Linked DNA regions of Homo sapiens. The protein of the gene in region 1 interacts with the protein of each later gene in a pairwise test. Each region holds a gene or a part of one and is shown in the gene's direction. Other genes may lie near its edges. The genes, in order: GOLT1B and INPP5K.

Evidence for each region.
Region 2: the proteins of GOLT1B (region 1) and INPP5K interact in binary tests that used the Homo sapiens proteins (3 or more experiments, as listed by UniProt).

Annotation. Positions count from the first base shown.
Region 1 is NC_000012.12:21,497,180-21,505,356, forward strand, and holds the start of GOLT1B (vesicle transport protein GOT1B), read left to right. Parts: upstream 1-4,609; 5' UTR 4,610-4,744; coding exon 4,745-4,769; intron 4,770-8,177. Other genes in the region: RECQL (ATP-dependent DNA helicase Q1), read right to left, coding at 2,376-2,391. UniProt on the Homo sapiens protein: May be involved in fusion of ER-derived transport vesicles with the Golgi complex.
Region 2 is NC_000017.11:1,504,612-1,514,890, reverse strand, and holds part of INPP5K (inositol polyphosphate 5-phosphatase K), read left to right. Parts: intron 1-911; coding exon 912-1,019; intron 1,020-1,329; coding exon 1,330-1,438; intron 1,439-5,091; coding exon 5,092-5,208; intron 5,209-5,537; coding exon 5,538-5,713; intron 5,714-6,664; coding exon 6,665-6,776; intron 6,777-7,801; coding exon 7,802-7,911; intron 7,912-10,279. UniProt on the Homo sapiens protein: Inositol 5-phosphatase which acts on inositol 1,4,5-trisphosphate, inositol 1,3,4,5-tetrakisphosphate, phosphatidylinositol 4,5-bisphosphate and phosphatidylinositol 3,4,5-trisphosphate.

The DNA of each region.
Region 1 (8,177 bases):
GAAGTGGTATGTGCCAAAGTGAGCAGGTTCTAAGTGAAGGCGTGAACAAGAAGTCTGAATGCTCATGCACCATGCTCCCCTTTGCCTCCTCCTCCTCAACCTGTAGCTATAACCTCATGGTGGGATTCAGTGTTACTAAGGGAAAAAAAAATGCAGACCTAATTTACAAAAGATTCTGCATGATATATTGTCACTACCTGAAAGTGAACAACTAAAGCACTCTAGCATCTCTCCAGAGTGATCCTGAAAAACATTGGAGATGGAAAATTCTCCCAGTCAGCAGTAAGCAGTCCACATAGTTATTCATTTTGCCAGAGGAATACATCCACACTATTATAAGCAATGGTTAATGATTGGCAGGATGGTTAGCAACTTGGAAGGTAGCAAATAGGAAAACTGGTGGCAATGAGGTCTGAGGAAGAGATATATGTATAGACCTCTCTGAATGGTCAGAGTGTGAAGGTATTTGTGTCCAATGTGAATGCTCATTAAAAACAACTTCGACAAAGTATAATCATAATTAATCAGGTAGACAAGATGACCTGGACATTGACCACACTTGTCCTTGCACAACGAAGTCAAGAACAAAGTGCCTTCTGCAACATGGACTGCCACTCACGAAGACCCATCTGGCTACATCCAGAGCTAAGTGCTCAACCTGCAAACAGCTCATACCAACCTTGAGTTCCAATGGAGGCACCATTCTCTGTGGGGACAGACAGATGCTTGATGGCAAAGTGACCGCATTGGAACCGTCTATAATGAAAGAGGCAGCACTTTGTTCTCACTGATACAGATGCTTACTCCGGATATGAATTTACCATACCTGCCTGCAGTGCTCTATCATGTCCACCATCCAGGAATTCACGGAATTCCTACTGATTGTCATCGTATTCCCCACCAAATTACTTCTGACCAAAGAACTCATTTACAGCAAACAAAGCACAACAGAAGGCTAATGTTCAAGATATTAACTGGTCTAACTATGTTCACCAACAACCTGCAGCAGCTAGCCTGAGAAAATAATGGAGTGGCATTTTGCAGACTCAATTATGCTGCCAGCTGGGTATCAGCACTTTAAGGGCTGGACTAGTAGCCTCCAGGATATGGCATGCTATACATCAGTGAATAGTGCTGTTTCTCCCATTGCCACGATTCACGGGAATCAGCGGTGGAAATGGGAGTGGCTCTTCTATTACCCTTAGTGATCCGCTAGTGAAATTTTTGCTTCCCATCCTTGAAACATCGGACTCTTGCTGGCCTAGAGGTCTTGGTTACCAAGAAAGAAATGCTTGTACCAGGGGAAAAAGCAATAGTTCCATTAAACTGGAAGTTGACTGCCACTTGGCCACTTTGGGTTCCTCATGCCAACAAATGAACAGGCAAAGAAGGCGATTACTATACTTGCTGGGGTAAGTGATCCTGACTATTAAGGGGAAATCAGATAGCTACTACACTATAGGGATAAGGAAGAGTATGTCTGGAAAGCAGAAGATCCTCTAGTGCACCTCTCAGTATTCCCTTACCTTGTGATTAAAGTTAATTGAAAACTATAATAACCAAATATAGGAAACTACTAAGGCAAGTAGTCCCCACCAAGCAAAGACCCATTACCAACTGAGAACCAAGGAATACAGAATGGGTAGTTGAAGAAGGCAGTTATAAAGTACAAACTATGATCACATGACCAATTGAAAAACAAGAACTGTAATAGCTATAAGTCTTTCTTGCTTTTTAAAATTTGTATATAAACCAAGTTTGGGTTTTTCCTTTTATTTGGTCCCTCTCCGATACATTACAGTATTACCAAGGAGGACATGATTCAGCAAGAAGAGAAATGAGCATCACCCAAAGACGAATAAAGATAATTTGTACCTGCTCTTTTGGGGAAGGGGTCAGTGTATACTCAGCAGTAAGAGAAATAGGCAAAAGCATGATTCCGCTATTGCCTTTATTTGGACACAAATAAGGTAAAAATTAGACACAAAAGGACAAATGTTATATGATTCCATTTATATGAGGTACCTAAAATAGTCAAGAAACAGAAAGTAGAATAGTGGCTATCAGGGATTAGGAGAAGAGAAGTAATGGAAAGTTACGGATTAATGAGTATAGAATTTTAGTCTGGATAGATGAAAAAGCTCTGGAGATGGATAGTGGTGACGACTGCACAACAGTCTAAATGCATTTAATGCCAATGAATTATTCACTTAATAATGGTTAGCATGGCAAAGTTTGTAATGTGTATTTTACTTCAATAAAAAAGCTGAAAAAAATCATTTCTATAATCAGAATTTTTAAAACAAACTTTTTCAAATATCATACAAACAGAAATAGAACAGAAGGAAGAAGAAAATGTAATCATTGCTACTAACCTGAAACGGACGCCATTCTTTTTCTTTCCAAATTTGTTTCTAAAATAATCCAAATTTCTTTCTAAAAATAAAAGCACAACAGTGACAACAAGTTTTTAAAAATAGTACTATTAATGATGTTCACTCAACAGTAATCTGTCATTCCTAAGCACGGAAAATGTTAGAAAGTAAATTATATATTGCAGTGACCTTTCAAATAAGAACCACATGGTTCTTTTGACACTAATTTTTTATGGAAAACTCTATATTTCAGCTTAATAACCCACAACACTCAGAACGACTAACTCTCTAGATTTCAGAGAAGTGTCCAAAGTCACATAAACGTATACATGACAAATACAGTAGCAATGACACTCAGCAAACATCCACAAGATACAAAGTGATGTAACAAAAAACAGCAAACATTCAACAGGTCTAGCACCAATTGCTATGTGACTAAATTACTATGTTAGGCAAAGTTGCATATGCTGTTCCTCCAAGCCTCTTTCCCTACCTGTAAAACTGGGAGGATGGCAATCTTATAAATAAGTTGGATAGATTCAAATGTACCAGATTAAGCAAAATACATCAACATAAATAATAAAATTAATCATCTAACATTTTATTGAGCCCTTGCGTTAAAGAATTACAATATAAGCCCAATCTTAAAAGAGAAACTGGTATTCTACAGAAAAGCTAGATTTTCTAAGTTAGAGGTGGGGGGAGGGGAAAATGGTTTGTAATGATTTCTAAGTATCTATGAATGACTAAAACCTAAGCATGCATATGGACAAGTGGAAAATGGGGCTGGAGAGTAGAAACTTTAAATTCCCCATAATCCTAAAAACACCTCTTCTATCTCTCTAATATGGACATTTTCTAAAACTAAGATGCTCTCCAAAAGTCACTTCTGCAACACCTATCCTTAGACTGCTGACCTTACGCCCTTTCTACACAGAATTCTGAAGCCACCACTAGGCCGGAAAGATAGGCTGACTCTTTTTTGCCTTGCTAAAGAATGTGGAATAACCACACCATTAAAAGAAGGCTAAATAGGAGAGTAAACCAAGGATTTCTAATTCTTGATCTATACAAACATCTCTTCACGTAATGAAAATGTAACATTCCTTCCATAGACTGTAAGGTCCTTTAGCAGGGCTGGGGTTCAATCTCTTCACCTTTGTATCCGCACAGCCCAGGAAAATGCCTTGATGTAGTGAGGGCTCAGGTTTGCTAAGGTAGCAGGGGCTGTTTCTACCCTTATGAAAAGACACAGTCTATATCCAATTCTCCCCCACGATTTTAAATGACTCCTTTGATTATGCGGTTAAAAGACTGCTCCTTCCCAAAATGATGTGATTTAACAGCAAAAGATATCTCAACATAAAATGTATCCAGAAATTGAACTACAGCAGGTCTGTCACTCAGCAGTATAAGCTAGGCATCCACAGGAAGAATGTTACAGGGTGACAGCCAGTCATCAATGTTGGAGGAAACGCCACTGAGATACCATAGGCTAAATCCTCTCTCTCCCCGCCACCTGCATTTAGAGGCAATAGTAATTTAATATTAATAACGCCCGCCCTTCCGCTACTGTGAAGCAGGGGGTGGAAGAAGCATCCCCAGTAGTATTTACCAACAAATGGCAGCTGCTAATAAACAGGCTTTGGTGGCCAATCCTCCTGCATGGAAAAGAATGGGGAGATCAGAAGACCGGTCAGCAGGCGAACGTGCCCCTAAAGGCCCGAGTTCTCAGAGCAGGGCAGTGATTAACTTTCCGGTTTCTCCTCCGCCAATGTGTGGGCGAAAGGAAGTGATCCGCTACAGACCGGCCTCGCCCTGCAGCAGGAAAGGGAAGGATGAAACAAAAAGCGCACACCCTTGACCCTTCAAAGCTGTAACAGTAGTTATCCCAGAGCCTCTCCCCACCGAGAAGCCCGGTCTAACTCTCCGGTGTTTGACTGTCCGGTGTCCGACTGTCCTGTGTCCGACTCTCCGATCTCCGACTCTCGGATCTCCGACACCAAAGCACCCAGGCCTCGAGCAGATCTTTCCGCTACTCGGGAGTAAAATCTTCCCGCCAGCCAGCTGAGAGCATCCACCCTTCCGGGTCGGTCCGTTCAGCCAATCACAGATAACTCCCTTCTCTAATTGGTCAAGGGGTGTGGTCACCATGCGCGTCACCGAACAACATTACGAGTTATTGGTTGAGATTGGAAGCAGGTTTCGCCAATAGGAAGCGCTCTTAAAGCGGCAGTGAGGGTGGCTGCGTGTTTCCGGAAGACGTGGCGGCTCTCGCCTGGGCTGTTTCCCGGCTTCATTTCTCCCGACTCAGCTTCCCACCCTGGGCTTTCCGAGGTGCTGTCGCCGCTGTCCCCACCACTGCAGCCATGATCTCCTTAACGGACACGCAGAGTAAGCACCTGCTCCGGGGCCCCCGCCTCGAGCCGCGCACACCCATCGCCCGGCTGGGTCTCGCCCCTCCGCCGGGGTCAATGAATGAAGCTCTGGGTTGGGGGCGGTGGCCTGCGAGACAGAGCTAGGGCTGCTGGGACCCTAAGGGGCTGCCTTCGGGATGCCGGGGCTAGACTTGGACTGGCGGACCTGACCTGGGAGAAGAGTCTGTGGGGCAGGGTGGGACGCCCTATGTTGGGAGGGGAGCTTTAGCCCAGAGTCTGTCTCATTCCAGGGTCGCGCTGATCTCCTCATCCCCAGTGAGATGGGCGCTTTGTTCTAGGGGCTTGCCACAAGAGAAAGTTTGCGTGGTGCCCGCGGCCCACTCTCGGGATCGTTTATGCGCATGACACACTTCGGGTCCTCTACAAGTCCCTGGCTGGCTGGTTATTTGGGAGGCGGTATTTTAAATGTCACCTACAGTAGGCTCTTTTTGAAAATGTCCTTACGCTTAAATGTGGCATTTTGAATATTCGCTTTTTGCCAGTACTGTAAGCAACCTTTTAGAAGTCTCTTGAAACATTCTCACTTTTCTACCTGCTAAAGTTTCAAGCAGTAGAGAAAAGCCACTTTGTGTGCCATTAAAGGATATATTTCGTTAGTATTGTATATTGTGCTTTGTGGCTTGTTTTATTATTTTAGCATCGCTCTCTGCCTGCCACAGAGTTCTCCAGGCCTATTTCATCTCTAAAGCTAGCATTGATATCGGTTTCCTTTTCTTTCATTATAATATTTCCACTTTCCTACTGCTTTTTGTTAATATTAATAATTTTTGTATTTATGTCTGCCCAAGCTCTGTACCTCATATTTTGATGTTCATAAGAGTCTCTTTTTGTCTCACTTTGCTTTATCTGCCACGCCTTTCATTTCACTCCAGTTAACTCAGATTTTCAATATTTTAAGACTTAAACAGTGAATTGAAGTGAAAAATAGAAGTTTATTTAAAATGCCCTATTTTAAAGTGGAGTCTTCTTGTGGAGATTCAAGTCATGGCAGACCAACTTCACAGAGCTTCTAAGGCCTCCTACACACACTGCCACCCCCCAATCAGGCTGTCTTCCCTCCTGAGGCTGGACTGGGGCTGCCTCTTGGGGCCACCTGCCCCAAGGTTGCCGCCCACTTTGGTCCATTGGCCTGGCCTGTTCTGATCAAAGAAAATAAAAGTGTAGTCTTGAGGGGATAGGAATCTAGTGTAATAATAATTACTGGCAATTATATAAAGGTATTTTCTTTCAGTTAACCATGTGCTTTCATGTGAATCATTATGCATAATTCTTATAAGAGCCCTGTAAGGCTCACAGAAGCATGCCCCTTTCATAAGTTAAATGAGGCACAAAAGAAATTGAGTGCATGGTCAAAGAAAAAGTGACAGAAACAAAACTTGATCCCAGGTGTGCTGGCTCAGAAACCTTTTGCACTGTACCCCACTATCACCTAAGAAGACTTGATATAAACTTTATTTGAGATCTGAGAATAATCTGTGCATAGAAATTATATTTTTGAAGACTTAATATAGTGATGAGTGCCTGCTTTATAAAAACAAGAGAGTGGGTTTGGACTATGGGCATTCTCCCTGAGAAGCATTCTCCTCACTTCATTAAATTTTGTGAGGGCAATGAAATTTTACTCTTTGCTGTTCACTTGTCACATGTTTTAGGTGAAACAGTGGATTGAAACATAAAACGATTAGTGAACCAAATGCATTTTGGATTTCAAATTGTGTTTGTGTGTGAGTGTGTTTAACTGCAGGGATTGGCCATCATTCAAGTGATTTGTCAGGATTATTCTGGGATTTTGGTTTTTAGAGAGTGGCCAAGCACTGCTCAGAGTAGAATAAATGGAAATTCATGATTATTTTAAGGCATTCTAGGACTTTCCTCACCGCCCCAAAAAAGACAAGACTTATTCAGAGGGGCGGAGGAGGGGCATGCTGCCTCTAAATCTTCATTTCATCACATTGTCTAAAAGCCTAGTGTGATAATTGCATTCTCCAGTACAGTTAATGTTCAATTGAATTCTTGCTTGACTTCTGTTTTTCAAAGGGTATGGTAAGAGAGACAATGCTGCTTTTAAAAAATTGTGAATAAGATATCAAAATGCTAACAGTGTTTGCCATTAGATTATGCGTGTCTTTCCTTATACAATTTCCACAGTATGCTCCTTATGTTAGACAGATTCGTTTTATTAAATTGTTTTTATATTTTTTTTAACTTGTGGACAGTTTTTTAAACATGTGGGAGGAGTGAAGGAAGATAAGTTTGTTTTACTGGATATGATTCCGATGGGAAGAAGGCAGCTCTATGCAAGGCTTTTGATAGCCAGAGGGCTTATGAATGCATACGGATAGGGAAAAGGGGGATCCTGGAGGTGAGAAAAAGGCACAATGAGGCCAATTTGAGACTTTTGACCAGTGTGGATCAGGAGCTACTTGGCAATGTCATTGCCAGTACCAGTTGTGGCAAAGATGTTTTGGGCAATGTCTCCCGCTGGACTGTACTGGATAAAGTAGTGGAATATTTTGGTTCCCATGTTGTAGTTGTAGGACCATTGTCTGTGGAGTGAGAAGACTGGTTGAATGCTGACTTCACAGACTGTTGTACCTGCCTCCATACCACCAGCACCCACACACACATTTTTGCTGCTTCTATGATCAAGAACAAGTTACTGAATTACCTCTAGGTCCATGGTTGCACATATGAACCATAGGACCAGTGCTACCTTTTACCTCACAATTTTGTTAAAGAAATTATAAAATTTTTGTATAAACACTTCATAACACGGTAAACCATACTCAGAGATTGGCCTTTTTGACCGCAGTTAATTTTTAATAGTTCTACTTGGCTATGTTAGATAACAAGCTAATATTAAACTTGAATCCCCTAAAAGATGCGTCCCCCAGAAGTTCAGAATACTCCAGTGTCCTTGAGTTTCATGTAACCAAACACCTTTAACCTAAAAAATAAAAATTCTGTGGGAAGAGGTATGGCATTAATGGTTAAGCACATGAGCTTTGGATTCAAAAGACCTTGGTTCGAATGCTTATCTAGAAGTGTGGCTTTAGGCAACTTAAGTCAACTCTCTAAACTTCAATTTCCTCCATCTTTAAAAAGATGTAATTATACCTGCATTCCAGTAGTATTGGAAGTATTAAGTTATATATAAGGTATGTGAAGCACTTCATAAGGCCTAATTCGTGGTAAATTCTCAGTACATAGTAGGTGTCTTTCCATATACCTTCCTTTCTAAAAACATCTCAGAATTTTTATGTAATCATCAAGGTTATTTGTGAAATGATAGAAATTAGTCATCTTCAACTAACAAAGCTGCCGATGTTTAATCCTAACTACTAAATAGTTATTTAATAGAATT
Region 2 (10,279 bases), on another chromosome or scaffold:
TTGGCAAAATTGGCTTGCTCCAGGGATCTGCTAGGGAGGAGAGAGGAAGGGAATATGGTGGTGTTATCTCTTTTATTTTTTAAATTCCTCTGCCCTTGTAGTGCTGAGGCCTATCACAAGGTGAAATCTGAATCCCTAGGATCTTCCTGGTGGTCTTAGGAACACTTGGGGTGAGAAGTAGGGATCAGAAGTTGCCGACTGAGCCATAGATGATGACAGAGGGGTGTGGGTGGCTGGAGGAGCTGATGGAATTAATACATTCCTGGCAGTTCAGCCCCCTAACCCTTCGCTAGCCTGACCTGAAATTCTTGGGCTCCCTTTGGCGACTCTGCTATATCAGCAGCACCAGTGCTGCCGGGTGTGGGTGGCTGTGAGCCAGCATGGAGGACCCAGTCCGGGGTGGGGATTTCTTGCTTCAGCAGAGAAAGGTGAGGACGGACAGCTGATGGTTCAGTATCCCCATTCCCTCCACCAGCACAGAAACCCACATTTCCCATCATGAGTGTGGCAGATTGCAGTGACATAAGCAGGCCTAGACCCCGTGCACTATCTTTTTTTTTTTTCTTTTGAGACAGAGTCTCACTCTGTCACCCAGGCTGGAGTGCAGTGGCACAATGTCGGCTCACTGCAACCTCTGCCTCGTGGGTTCAAGCAATTCTCCTGCCTCAGCCTCCAGAGTAGCTGGGATTACAGGCGCCTGCCACCATGCTGGGCTAATTTTTGTACTTTTAGTAGAGACGGGGTTTCACCATGTTGGCCAGGCTTGTCTCGAACTCCCGACCTCAGGTGATCCGCCCACCTCGGCCGCCCAAAGTGCTGTGATGACAACGTGTGAGCCTCTGCGCCCAGCCGACCCCGTGCACTATCTTATCCTCCTTCCTCCATGACTTCCCTCTGCATCCCTTCCGCAGCATACACGTCGTGACTTGGAACGTGGCTTCGGCAGCGCCCCCTCTAGATCTCAGTGACCTGCTTCAGCTGAACAACCGGAACCTCAATCTTGACATATATGTTATTGGGTAGGTATCTGCAGGCTCCTTCGCCCATCCCTGACCAGTCCCAGGTTTCCCTGTGGGAAGCACTGTGACCTGCCCTCCTCCGCTCTGGAGTCTGAAGGCTGGGAGCTTTCAGCCTGCTTCAGGGACAGTCCCATGTCTCTGGTCCCGGGTCAGCAACGGCAAAGGGGGCTGGAGATCAGCAGGCAGGGGAGGGAGACCTCATGGCCATCAGAACTCAGGCCTTGAAAGTCCGTGAAGATGGTATCAAATATCTGTGGCAGGGGAAGTAGCCTGGAGGCCAGGGGCCAAGCCTCTGAGCTGGCATGGTCAGTTTGCAGGAATTGAACTCTGGGATCATAAGCCTCCTTTCCGATGCTGCCTTTAATGACTCGTGGAGCAGTTTCCTCATGGATGTGCTTTCCCCTCTGAGCTTCATCAAGGTAACTTGCCAGTTCATTGGCACTTGACAACTGTGTTTTCACATCTCCACTGACCCCTGCTTGTTGGGTCTGATGTGTTCCTCTTACTCCTGCTCAGCCTTTCATGCTGTTTCCCATTTGTTTAAAGGGCTAAACCTCCCTTCCACCTGGACCCCGGGGCCCCTGCCTGCCTTCGCCTTTCTGAGGGAGCTGGAGTCTCCAGGGGTTGGGTTAACACCTGGATATGTTTCAGCTTGGGAAGATTCTGAGGGGAGGTGCAGCAGGGCTTGTCATCACCTCAGTGCTGGCCGCTGCCCCAGCCACCAGTCTCTACTCAAATGCCCATCCTGAAGTCTCTGAGTGTAATCATACGGCTGTCATTTATCAAGTGCTTACTTGTTGTTACACATCATAAGTAGCTCTTTATAGTATATATGTTATTTTAAAATCTTAACAAGTCTGTTGAAATAGAGATATTTTACAGAGAAAACCATGGCTCAGAAGCCACATGCGCTATCTGGGATTTGGATCCAGATCTCTCAAACTTCATAACCCAAGTTCTTAACTACTAATACCTTATTGCTATGCTGGTGAACTCTAAGACTGACAGATCTTAGGCGTGGCTAGCCTGCTGGTGTCATAGGGTATCCTCAGGTCATACGGGACGTGCACTTCAGATTCTGGGGGTCCAGAGGTTAGGAGAGGGGAGTCAGGTGTGGTGGGTACTTTGGGCGGCTTTCTTAGTCTGAGAGACCAGTATACTCTGGGGTGTCTTTAGACAGTAGGAGAGTCCACAGGAAGGCCCTGGGTTGCCAGATCTTCACCTTCACCTTGGTTCTGCCCTGCACACCTGAGGAATGAAACACACTCCCATTCACAGCACCTGGTATACAGCTGCTTAGAAATACCAGAATTCCCTCTTTCCCCTTCCTGGATGACTCTTGTTCTTCAGAATGGATTCTGTCAGCCTAGTTTGCCTGGGGGTACTGAGGCAAGAGCTGTGTGTCCTTTGGAGGGGGAGCAGAATGGGGAGGAAAGAATCTAAGGTTTAGAACTCCTGCTGAGGATAGAAAACACCAGCCCGAGTCCTTGGTTCCCTCCACATCAAACCCAGAGGCCTCCTTCTGTAGATAGGGAGCTAGATCCTTACAGAGGACACAACCACTTCTCTCTCACCCGCCACTCCCTTCCCAAGACTGCAGGCCTCCTTGCTTCTCGGCTGACTGGCAAAGGATTGGTAGGATGGAATTGAGCCAAGGAAATTAGCTCAACTTGTGGCAGAGACACAGCCCTTTCTACCCATGTGGCCTACTGAGATTGGGAGGCCAGACTGAGGGCCTGGCACCCAAAATGAATGCCCTTCTTTCCCCAGCCAAGAATCAGGGTGGATGGGTGAGCTCCGTGCATTTGCCAGCTATAGACTGAGAAGGGCTGACCCCCTTCCACTGCTCCAGGGCCCCCAGCCACCTCCTGCTAGTCCTTTCTTCGCTCCTCCTACTTCATTTCCTCCAACTAGAACTTTCCCTAGAACTCTCCTGCTTTTCCCACAGCCCCACCCTTTCTCCCAGTCTAACTCTGTCCTGCCCCGACCCCACCCTCCCCGCCCCCACTTCCCTGCTGCTCCTTCACAAAGCGAGCCAGTGTCTTTGTGGTGGAACCCAGTGGCCTAAAGCTGCTTTGTGGGTGGGGATTAAGCCTGAAACTTTTCCTGAGTCTTTATCAGTCCCCTTGCTTCAATCCTGACCCTGGGAGTCAGCCCCTCATGGTCCAGCCCGTCCTCCATCCCTGTTGGCACGTGTGCTTGGGTGTAGGAGAGAGAAGACTGGGGAGGAAGTAGGCTTGAGGACACACCTGTAGCAACCTCTGGCCCACCTGAAGTTCTGATGCCTCCCTTACCCAGTGCTGGGTTTGAGGTTCCCCCTGCTTCGACTCCGCTATGCCAGGGCTCGTGGCCTGCAGGATCAAGTTTCATAATTCCTGGAAGGCCCCAGTACACGCTCCCCACCCGGGGATTTCCTCCTTGGCCTCCACACTTCATTCTCCGGAAACGGCTCCTCGGGTGCCGGTGGTAGACAGCCTGAACCTGAGAGGGAGAGCTACTGGCTGCGGCCCATTCCCACCCCACCTTTTGCAGCTGCAGATAGTAGGGATCTTGGCAGTCCTAGCCCTTTGATGTTGTTTTACAATACAGGTAGCCCTACTGGTTCCTTAGCCTCCCTAAATCTTAGTTCCTCAACTACAAAACAGGGACGGTGATTCCTTACAGGCTTGGCAGGAGTAAATGAGAGAGGAGGCACTTGAGCAGATGTTAGCTATTCTCCCTAGCCTGTGCACATGTGTCCTTACCCACTGGCATTCCATGGGCGTTGCCTTCATGGACACCCAGCTGCACGCAGTATATAGTTATGGGGTTTGGGGGGAGCATTTTCTTATTTTTTTTTCACTGAGCTATAATGTACACAGAAAAGCATGCAGAAATTCAGTGTACACTTTGATGGGTTTTTGCATATACCCATGTTACCATCAGCCACATCTAGATAAAGAGCAGGCCGAGTACAGTGGCTCATGCCTGTAATCCCAGCACTTTGGGATTATAGAGGCAGGGAGATTGCTTGAACCCAGGAGTTCAAGACCACCCTGGGCAATATGGCAAGACCCTGTCTCTACAAAACAAACAAAAATAGCCGGGCATGTTGGTGCACACCTGTGGTCCTAGCTACTCAGGAGGCTGAGGTGGGAGGATTGCCTGAGCCCAGGATGTCAAGGCTGCAGCGAGCCGTGATTGCACCACTGCACTCCAGCCTGGTAGACAGAGCGAAATCCTGTCTCTAAGTAAAAAGGGAGGAATGGGGGCAGCTGGTGGATAAAGAACATTTCCAAGGAGAGAGGGAGGAAGGGAAGGGGATAAAGAAGAGCATTTCCCAGTATCCTGGAAACCTCTTATGTTCCTTCCTTTTAAGAATGCTTGGCCGGGCGCGGTGGCTCACGCCTACAATCCCAGCACTTTGAGAGGCCAAGGCAGGCAGATCACCTGAGGTCGAGAGTTCAAGACCAGCCTGGCCAACACGGTGAAACCCCATCTCTACTAAAAATACAAGACCTGGTGGTGGGCGCCTGTAATCCCAGCTACTTGGGAAGCTGAGACAGGAGAATCACCTGAACCCAGGAGGTGGAGGTTGCAGTGAGCCGAGACCACGCCATTGCACTCCAGCCTGGGCGACAGAGCGAGACTCCGTCTCAAAAAAAAAAGAATGCTGAAACCAAAAAATAATAGCTTTCAGATAATCCCCACAGCATCTATGAGATGGATTCCTACTTTATCAATGAGAAAATACACTGAGAAACTGCCTCAATGTCAAATACTAAGAATCAGAGCCAGGGTTTGAACCCAGATCTAACTTCAAAGCCAGTATCCTTAGCTTATCTTCTCTTCCCGCCACCCGCACGCCTAGGCGCAGAATCGAAAACCTCAGCCCCCAGAATGTATCATTTGGCAGCTGAGAAGAAGAATGGAAAGGCTTGAAACTCTGAGATTCAAACTGGGATATCGTAGACCCTGGAGCAGGACACTGCATGTAGCTGAGGGCTCTCTAGAGTCCCTAGCACGGAGCTTGGAAGGGATGCACTTGGCCTGTGTGGTTTAATGAGCGACCTTTGCCCTCTCTCTCCTGCAGGTCTCCCATGTCCGTATGCAGGGGATCCTCTTACTGGTCTTTGCCAAGTATCAGCATTTGCCCTATATCCAGATTCTGTCTACTAAATCCACCCCCACTGGCCTGTTTGGGTACTGGGTAAGGACTGAGCTATTGTCTGAGTCGTGAGCTGGGAAGGGCTGGGAACTGTGGAGCTGGGCAAAAGAAAAAGGAAGTGAAAGGAATCTTGGTCCTCTGTCCAGCCCAATGCATGTTTGTTCTTTTGCCTCAGAGTGGGCTTGCTATCCCTGAGGCCAGGCGAGGCGAGCTGGGCTCTGTGCATGGAGAGATCACCCTGGGAAGCTTAGTTACTGTCCCTAGGAGACCCTGCAGGAAGTGAGACTGTCTGCCCTCAGGTCCAGGATGTGGAAAGAGGGGTGTGTCCAACCCGAGTAGCTTCCCACTCTTCTGTTGACCTGTTCTACCAGGGGAACAAAGGTGGAGTCAACATCTGCCTGAAGCTTTATGGCTACTATGTCAGCATCATCAACTGCCACCTGCCTCCCCACATTTCCAACAATTACCAGCGGCTGGAGCACTTTGACCGGATCCTGGAGATGCAGAATTGTGAGGGGCGAGACATCCCAAACATCCTGGACCACGAGTGAGCCTGGGTCTGGCAGACCGTTCCCCGCCCTCTGCCCCACGCTAACCCCCACTAACCCCCACGAGTGAGCCTGGGTCTGCAGACCGCTCCCCGCCCTCTGCCCCACGCTGACCCCCACGAGTGAGCCTGGGTCTGCAGACTGTTCCCCGCCCTCTGCCCCACGCTGACCGCCACGAGTGAGCCTGGGTCTGCAGACTGTTCCCCGCCCTCTGCCCCACGCTGACCCCCACGAGTGAGCCTGGGTCTGCAGACCGTTCCCCGCCCTCTGCCCCACGCTGACCGCCACGAGTGAGCCTGGGTCTGCAGACCGTTCCCCGCCCTCTGCCCCACGCTGACCCCCACGAGTGAGCCTGGGTCTGCAGACTGTTCCCCGCCCTCTGCCCCAGCTGACCGCCACGAGTGAGCCTGGGTCTGCAGACTGTTCCCCGCCCTCTGCCCCACGCTAACCCAAGCCAGCATCCTCTGCTCCATCACGGATCCCCCAGCCAGTGTCGTCAGTGTTCTGGCTCCCACCCTCTCCCTGACCCTTCCCTGGTGCCCATCTGCTGTCTCCCCTTGCTTTGCCTGCCTGGGGTCCCCTTCCTCCAGCCCGTCTGTCTTGCTTAGAAACCCTGAACACTTGGGAACAGGTCAAGGACCTTGTGGCTCCTGAGGTCACCAGGAGGGCTTCTCAGCCTTTCCTCGTGACCAGTTAAGGAGAGGAAGGAAGGGCCACAGCCTGCTCTGTGTTTGCCAGAGCAGGCTCTTTGGTAGGTCTCTCCGGTTTGAATGGTGGTTTAGGAGCCATGAGAACAGTTCCAGAGGACCCACGCGTGCCCTGGCGTCTCACTTGCCCCTCAGGTTTTCTGTGCCCCAGCAGCCCTTGGGTTGAGCAGGCTGAGCCACCTGGTGATCTCCCTTCCCCGACTTCATCACAAATCCTCAGGCTGCCCTCCTTTTTTTCTGAAGCCTCATTATCTGGTTTGGAGACATGAACTTTCGGATCGAGGACTTTGGGTTGCACTTTGTTCGGGAATCCATTAAAAATCGGTGCTACGGTGGCCTGTGGGAGAAGGACCAGGTATCCAGTGAGGGGAGGGTCCCAGGGGGTGATCTGAGCCCACGGTGGGGGCCATGTGAGCTGTGCAGAGTGTTGCTAGATGCCCTCGCTGCTGTTTTCTTTTGCCCAGGTCTGGTGGGGGAGGCTGTCTAGCAGGGCTTCGCATCCAGGGGTGAGGCAGCCACGCCTGATCTTCACATGGAAAAGCCAGGGTAACAGACCCTGGATGTGCTTTAGAATAGAGAGTCAGATACAAAGCATGAAATGAATTATTTAAAAAAGAAGAATAGGGGCCGGGCACGGTGGCTTATGCCTGTAATTCCAGCACTCTGGGAGGCCGAGGTGGGTGGATCACCTGAGGTCGGGGGTTTGAGACCAGCCTGACCAACTTGGAGAAACCTCATCTCTACTAAAAATACAAAAAAAAATTCGCCGGGCGTGGTGGCACGTGCCTGTAATCCCAGCTACTCGGGAGGCTGAGGTAGGGGAATCGCTTGAACCCGGGAGGCAGAGGTTGCAGTGAGCAGAGATAGCGCCATTGCACTCCAGCCTGGGCAACAAAAGCAAAACTCCATCTCAAAAAAAAAAAAAGAAGAAGAATAGGGAACCAGAAGGGCTTTGCACCAGGTACCATCATGCGTCAGCCCATCGTGTCCCTGTCGTCTTTCCCATCCCCAGCCTCGTTTCCCTCTTGGAGGGTGAGGTGCCCCTTTGGAGAACCCTGGCTTCCCCAGGTTCCCCTCTGACACATGTCTGCTAGTGATCTCCCCTAGAGATGGAATTCCAAGTTGGGTCCCTGCAGTCTAAGGACTGGGAAACGGCAGACAGCTGCCTCCCCTGGGCCTTGGTAATGTTTCCGAAAGGATTCGCCTGCTTTCTGGTGGGAGTGGGCTGCTGAGTAGTCACTGGGGCAGTGAGGAATTGGAGTGGCATTGCTTGACTCTTGCCCCATTTGTGACGGCATGTGCTGATCCCTTGAATGGAGTGTGGTACTGGGCCACTGGGTCGAGACTACTGGGAGACGGGGACTATGACTTTGTCTGCAGCTCAGCATTGCCAAGAAACATGACCCGCTGCTCCGGGAGTTCCAGGAGGGCCGCCTACTCTTCCCGCCCACCTACAAGTTTGATAGGAACTCCAACGACTATGACACCAGGTGAGGAGGGAGTGGGGGGCCAGAAGGTCTAGGAAGTCAGGTTACACTGACCCTGCTGGCATGGGAACTGTCTCAGAATAGAAGTGTTAGGGGGGGCAGGAATTGGTCTAGTCATCCCCTCTCCAGAGTGGCACCTCCTGTCCACTTCATGAGGCGCTGACTCGGGGAGCCGTCCCAGATCTCGAGAGAGTGGGAGGAAAGCCAGTGCCAGCAAGGGCAGGAGAGGTGTGTAGGGGGTGGGGGTGTTACAGATAGAACCAGAGGAGAGGGTGGAGCAGCTGCCTCCTGACCTAGGAGGGACTGCACTTCAGCTTCGGGAAACCCCAGACCTTCTGGTCCCCAAACGGGGCAGAAAGCTTGGCCCAGCCAGTTACTGGTATTAAGGACGCCTGCCCCAGCCTGTGAATGGGTCAGGTCTTGTGTGAGAAGGTGAAGTAGTAGGTAGAGAGTTTCATCAGGATCAGTGTAGAGATCATGAGTCTGGTAGTTAGAAGCACGGCTCTGTCTTATTTTAGCCAAAGCGTTTAGGCCTTGATTTTGTCAGCTATAAGGTGTGGATGAGAAGAGCACACACCTCATGAGGCTGAGGACTGAAGGAGGCCGTCACCCAGTAACCATGGGAGAGAACGGCTATTGTGACTTTTCGATTCATGCCGGCTGGGCGCGGTGGCTCACACCTGTAATCCCAGCACTTTGGGAGGGCCGAGGCAGGTGGATCACTGAAGGTCAGGAGTTTGAGACCAGCCTGACCAACATGGTAAAACCCCATCTCTACTAAAAATTCAAAAATTAGCTGGGCATGGTAGCGCGCACCTGTAATCCCAGCTACTCAGGAAGCTGAGGCAGGAGAATTGCTTGAACCCAAGAGGCAGAGGTTGCCGTGAGCCGAGATCTCACCGCTGCACTCCAGCCTGGGTGACAGAGCGAGACTCCGTCTCAAAAAAATAATAATAAAATAAATAGATTCATGTCTTCCCGTGATAGATTTACTAAAAACCTTTCTAAGAAGCTGAGAAGGGGCCAAATAACCACCAAAACCTGAGAAAGAACCACTGGCAACATGTCCCTGACTCATTTTGGGGCAAGGAACCTAATCTCTTTGAAGAAAAGAAGAGCCCCTTACATGTCATGAGGGTCTTTGTTCCAGCGGGAGCAGCTTGTTCATTCCTCCTAGCTGGAGTGTCTCTGTGAGGGAGGCGGGAGGTACCGGCAGGGCAGCCCAGGGCTTTGGGATTTAGCCAGGGAAGAAATATCTCCACAGCCAGACCAAGACAAGAGGTAGAACTCAAGCTTGGTTCTGGAAGTGTTACAGCAAAGCCAAAATATCCTTGTCAAGGAAAGGGGGAAAGAGTGAGCCGATTCAGCAGTGTGGAGCAAGACAGGGTAGGGTCGTGAGCAGGGCCGTCCACAGAAGAGGAGGCAGTGGACGCTGGGGAAGGGACCCGCCCTGGGCAACAGAGCAGGCAGGAAAGGAGGTAAGAGGCCAGGCTGCAGCAGGATGGCCGGCCCAGATCAACAGCTGCAGGGAGACTGCCAGTCTCTGCAGCCATCCATTGGAAACAAGAGTCCTGGTGGGAGCTGTAAGGACAGGGTAGGGCCTTGGGTGGGGAGGGGGTGCTTGAAGCCAGGAGTTCAAGACCTGCCTGGGCAACATAGTTAGACCCCGTCTCTACGAAAATTTAAAAATTAGCTGGGTGTAGTGGCATGTGCCTGTAGTCCCAGCTACTCAGGAAAGCTGAGGCAGGAGGATCACTTGAGCCCAGGAGTTAAAGGCTGCAGTGAGCTGAGATTGACTCACTGCACTCCAGCTGGGCAACCCTGTCTCCAAAAAAAAAAATCCTCTTTAAAAACTTACCAGCAGGAAGAGAGCTGCTGGCAGGCCCTACGGCCAGGCGTCCCCTTCTCCCAGCCCTATGGCAGAGAGACCTCCAGGAGACTGAAGTTTGTTGCAAAAGCTGGATCTGGGCTGGAGTTGGCAGGGTCAGAAAGGGTAGAGAGCTTTGGAGAAGTTCAAGGGCTTCCCCAGGTAGCTCAGCCAGTGAGTGGCAGAGCTGGGGCTGAGACTGATCTCTGAGTCTGTAGCCCACAGTACTTTCCTCAAGCCCATCGTACCTCAGGATTCATGGTCATCCTTGCCAGCAAGAGGAAAAAGGATGGCACGGTGAGGAAGGCAGACTCCCGCTAAGGAGGAGGCACGCACCTATTTCCAAATAACAGCTCATTGTGATTGGCGTGCAGGTGTGCGCCAAGGCTTTGCCTGTATCAGTTCCTACCATGTCCTCGTTAGGTAAACAGTGTTATTATTGCCTGTTTACAAGGAAAGCAACTGAGTCTCAAAGAATATATAAGTAAGGAGTAACAGGCTTCT